Linked DNA regions of Homo sapiens: region 2 is linked to region 1. Evidence: fine-mapped expression QTL. A gene starts in region 1. The other region holds a variant in brackets. All regions are shown on one strand. Distances are between the middles of the regions.

The links.
Region 2: its variant is fine-mapped to the expression of GCKR in thyroid (GTEx, PIP 0.95).

Annotation. Positions count from the first base shown.
Region 1 is chr2:27,495,478-27,497,977 of GRCh38, forward strand. GCKR (glucokinase regulator) reads left to right here and starts at 1,362. Exons shown (of 19, transcript NM_001486.4): 1 at 1,362-1,487; 2 at 1,767-1,922; 3 at 2,085-2,153. The coding sequence starts at 1,428.
Region 2 is chr2:27,519,057-27,522,080 of GRCh38, forward strand. The region is part of intron 17 of GCKR (glucokinase regulator); the gene reads left to right. Among named protein-coding and RNA genes, the nearest start is that of SPATA31H1, 17 kb to the right of the region's middle. The variant A/G (reference allele first, on the strand shown) is at 1,292.

The DNA of each region.
Region 1 (2,500 bases):
GCCAAGTTGGGAAGAGGAATTCCACCTCCAGTGCCCGAGGGGCTAACAGGAGAGGGGAGAGAGTGAGGGAGATAATAATTGCTTTAACAATCCCTTACTTGTAGACTGCGTCAGCTTTTAAGTCTCTTTTCCATTCATAATCTCATTTAATTCCGTTCGCTTTCTCATTCATTCTTTCATTTATTCACCAAATATTTATTGAGCATCTCCTATGTGTCTGGCATTATATTAAAACCTGGAGATACAGTGATTGTTAAGAGTGTTGGGCTTCTCGGGAGAATCAAAGCGCAAAGACCTATGGCTTTTTTAAAAAAATTATTATTCCTTTCTTTTCTTTTTTTGTTTTTCTAAAGCTCTACCACTTACGGTGTGGTTTTGGAGAAACTGGTTTATCTGTGCTTCAGGTTTCCCACCTGTAAAGCAAAGCGTGTGAAATCTCACAGGGTTGTTGTGAGGCTCAAATGAGACGGGAAAGATCTTTATAAATCTCACAACACTATGTGACTGGATGATGGAGATTAATTTGCACCAATCTGTTAGTTACTTCTTTGTTCAATAACATGTAAGCCCTTACATTATATCATGCTTTGGTTGAGCTTGAAATCTGAATTGAGAACCTGGGTGTGAGTCCCAATTTGTCCAGCTGTGTGATCTTAAGCAACCAACTAAACTACTCTGAGCCTGTTTCATCATCTGAAAAATGAGGGTGTCAATATTGACCAACATCTTAGTGTTGGTGTATCCAATGAGATACTGTCTGTGAAAAGTGTGTTGTTCAGTGTAAATAAATGTTGGCTAACATTGTATTTAGGGCAGATTCTTTGGTTTCTAATTCTCAATGCAGTATTTCTGTTTCTGTGGGATTTTTCCCGCTGTAATATCCAGTACAGTGTGTGCACACTTGGGGCTCAGAAGCTTCTACTGCCTTCCTTTCTGAGAGGAGAGGATAAAATGGGACCAGTGGGACTGACTGTGTGTGCTGAGCATGTGATCAAGCCATGGGCCAGGTCCTCTGACTTGTGCTGACTTGGTGACCCTGATCTCTGGCCTCGGAGGACACTTGCCCAGGGATTCTCACTGCCGTGGGTGTTGTCCTGCACTCCCAGGCTCCAGGTCCTCTGTAGAAGAGGGCATTGTCCCGGTAGGGCAAGAGTCCCGAGCCTCAGGTCTTCCTCTTCAGGGGCCAAAGCAGAGGCTGGCGAGTCAGGGTGCTTGCAAAGAGGAAGCCCAGGAGTTTCCCTGGGGTTACCAGAGGGCTGGGGGCCTAGTGACCAGGAAAGGGTGGTGCTCTGAGAGCCCAGGGTGCTTGGGTTAATCATCACTGGGGCTCAGATAAGGCCCTGCCAACTGGAAGCAGAGTCATTGTGACCAGAGGGGTTTGTGTGGCTGAAGAGGCAGGAGGAACAGTGTATCCACAGCGTGGGACCATGCCAGGCACAAAACGGTTTCAACATGTCATTGAGACCCCGGAGCCTGGCAAGTGGGAGGTGAGACCCCTTCTTCATGTTGGCTTTCTGTGCTGATTCCTAGAATTATTTTTCATCCAGTCTTCCCTCCCCGCTGGTTTCTGCTCACCTCTTCTTCCTTCCTGATGTTCTTTCCCTAATATGCCCAGAGCACCAAGTGCAGGCTGAGTTTCTGGTGTGGTATGTGTGTGCGTGTGTGTAAGTCCAAACTCTGTGCCTGCTGCCACTCCCACCTCCAGCTCAGCAGGCATGAATGAGGCTTTGGCTTCCTGCTCCATCCTTGTCCCCTCTTCCTTCTAGTTGTCTGGGTACGAGGCAGCTGTGCCAATCACGGAGAAGTCAAACCCACTGACCCAGGATCTAGACAAAGCAGATGCTGAGAACATTGTTCGACTGCTAGGGCAATGTGATGCTGAGATCTTCCAGGAGGAGGGGCAAGCCCTGTCCACATACCAGGTAACCAAGACCCAAGACCTGGACCCTGGAAATAAACATGCCAACCCCAACCCCACCTCTGCTCTCCCTCACCATGGCTCCTAATATCGGAAACCCTGAGACCCCCTCCCCCATTCATCGTCCTCCTTTTCTTGGCTTCTCATTCCTGCATATTCCCTACAGAGACTCTACAGCGAATCCATTCTGACCACCATGGTACAGGTGGCTGGGAAAGTTCAGGAAGTGCTGAAGGTACTAACCTTCCTTCTGTTCCCTGCCTAAACTTTTCTGTTTCCCTCTTTCTCTTTTTACTGTCTCTATTTCTCACTTTGATAGATCTCATTCTCCTTTCTCCCTTTTGGAGATCCTCCCTTTTGGATCCTTATTTTCATCTTATTAATAAATAATAATGATAACTTCTCTGCTTAATACTTTATAATTGACAATCTACTTTCACACCTATTACCCTCACAAAAGCCTGTGAAGTTGATATGACTTCTGTTTGTTTTCCTCAGATGAAAAAACAAAGATTTAGAAAGGATAATCACTGTAGCTTGCTCAAATACACTGAGCTAATAATTGCTGGATAATGCTGCTTT
Region 2 (3,024 bases), 24 kb after region 1:
TTCTGCTCCTCCTATTAGGTGCATCTTCCCCTTAAGGAGTGTGTGTGCACACATGGGTGTGTTTGTGAAATTGTAATTATTAGGCAAGACTCTTTCAGTTACAAACGTGATGGAAAACGAGTTTATACTGGTTTAAGCTAAACAAAGAAAATGGTGGCTGATATAACTGAACAATCTTAGGGCAGCTGAATCTAATGTGTTCCAGAACTTTCCACCCTTAACTCTGTTTTCCCCTGTGTTGCTCTCATTCTTTTTTTTTTTTTGAGATGGGGTCTTGCTCTATCGCCCAGGCTGGAGTATAGCGGTGCTATTTCAGCTCAGTGCAACCTCCGCCTCTGAGGTTCCATTGATTCTCCTGCCTCAGCCTCCCGAGTAGCTGGGATTACAGGCACCCCCCACCATGCCCAGCTAATTTTATATTTTTTAGCAGAGACAGGGTTTTGCCATGTTGGCCAGGCTGGTCTCGAACTCCTGACCTCAGGTGATCCACCTGCCTCAGCCTCCTAAAGTGCTGGGATTACAGGCGTGAGTCACTGCACCCGGCCGTTGCTCTCATTCTTAGGCAAGTTTTTTCCATTAGGTGGCAAACTGGCCACCAGTAGTGCCAGCCTGACAATTTACGTAGCAACACTAGTGGGCAAAGAGCTTGCCTGTCCTGTGGTTCTTGCAAATGCCTGGTTGGGGGCTCTTGCTTGGGACACATGCATGTCCCTGAAGCAATCACTGTTCTCCAGAGCAAGGGATGCTCTGCCCAGTCTGGATCATGTGCTTTCCCTTCAGGATGGTGGTGGAAGAAGGGCTGGGAGGTGAGCCTCAATCCAACCTCATTACCTGAGCATGGGGAAGCGATAGATCCTCAGAGGAAAACCAAGGTGCTGATACCAGAAGGAGTGGATGTTGAGCAGACGGCACAACAGATGGTCATGAAAATGGGGTCGCCAGATTCGGCAAATAAAAATACAGGACGCCCAGTTAAATTTGAATTTCAGATAAATATGGAATAATTTTTCCATCAAGTATGCCCTATGCAATATTTGAGATATTTTTGATTTTTTTCATTATATATTTGGATGTCCTGTATTTTTATTCACAAAATCTGGCAACCCTATGTGAAAGGAATCAATCAATGAACATTTAGTGAGCACCCACCAGGTCCCCAAAATAAACTATGGTCCTTACTGAAGTCCAGTGGAGGTATAAAGAAGGTGGGGGTCAGAATGCATTATAGCAAAAAGAAGGCCTCATGGAAGGGGTGGTATTTTGAGCTAGGCCTGGTGGTTATGGCTTGGAT[A/G]GGTGGACAGAAGAGCATTCCTGTTAGGTCATTCACCAAGTCCCAGAAGGGGGACTGGGCATGATATGTGAGGGACACAGGTCTAACCAGAGTGGCAAGTCACTTTAGAGCGCAGTGAGGGATTGTGAAGAAGTAGGAAGGGGAGGGATGTGGGAGGTTAAAGCCAGGCAGGAATTTGGACTTTGCCAAATGCAGCTAGACCTGCGCTGTCCAAAACATTGGCCACCAGCCACATGTGGCTATTGAGCACTTGAAATGTGGCTAATGTGACTGAGGAACTGAATTTTTAATTTTATGTAAAAACCAAAGCTGTATACTTTTTAAATTAAATGTAACTTTAATATTTTGGTAGGACTACATTTCTCTTTTTAGCATTGCAAATCTAGCACCCAAATTGAGGTGGGCTGGCTGGGCACGGTGGCTCACGCCTGTAATCCCAGCATTCTGGGAGGCCGAAGCAGGCAGATCACTTGAGGTCAGGAGTTCGAGACCAGCCTGGCCAACATGGTGAAACCCCGTCTCTACTAAAAATAAAAAAAATAAAAAAATAGCCGGGCATGTTGGCACAGGCCTATAGTCCTGTCTACTAGGGAGGCTGAGGCAGGAGAATAGCTTGAATCTGGGAGGTGGAGGTTTCAGTGAGCCAAGATAGTGCCACTGCACTCCAGCCTAGGTGACAGAGTGAGACTATCTCTCAAAAAATAAAATTAAAATTAAAAAAAGCCACAAAAAAACAAATTGAGGTGTGCTCTAGTTGCAAAATACACACTGGATTTCAAAATACAAAATCCGAATATAGAAAAATATTGCAAAATATCTGACTAATAATGTTTAATATTGTTTACATTGGGTTATATATTGGGTTAAATAAAATATATTATTAAAATTGATTTCAGGCCAGGTGTGGTGGCTTACACCTGTAATCCCAGCACTTTGGGAGGCCAAAGCGGGCAGATCACAAGGTCAGGAGAAATAGGTGAAATCACATTTTTTTTTTTTTTGAGATGGAGTCTCACTCTGTCACCCAGGCTGGAGTGCAGTGGCATGATCTCGGCTCACTGCAACCTCCACCTCCTGGGTTCAAGTGATCCTCCTGCCTCAGCCTCCTGAGTAGCTGGGATTACAGGCATGCGCCACCACACCCAGCTAATTTTTTTTTTTTTTTTTGTATTTTTAGTAGAGACGGGATTTCACCATATTGGCCAGGCTGGTCTCCAACTCCTGACCTTGTGATCCACCTGCCTCAGCCTCTCAAAGTGCTGGGATTACAGGTGTGAGCTGCTGTGCCTGGCCAATTTCACCTATTTCTTTTTTTAATGCAGCTACTGAAAACTTAAACTTACATATGTGGTTTGCATTATATTTTTTTCTTTATTTTTATTTTTTTTAGAGACAGGGTCTCACGCTGTTACCCAGGCTGGAGGGCAGTGCATTGGCACCATCCGGCTCACTACAGCCTCAAACTCCTGAGCTCAGGCAATCCTCCCACCTCAGCCTCCTGAGTAGCTGGGACGATAGGCAGGTGCCACCATGCCCAGCTAATTTGTTTTATTTTTTGTAGAGATGGGGTCTTGCTGTGTTGCCTAGGCTGGTCTCGAACTCCTGGGCTCAAGTAATCCTCCTGTTTTGACCTCCCAAAGTGCTGGGATTACAGGTGTGACCCACTGTGCCCAGCCTTGCATTATATTTCTACTGGACAATGCTGAGCTAGACAGAGAGGAGGGTAGTGACAA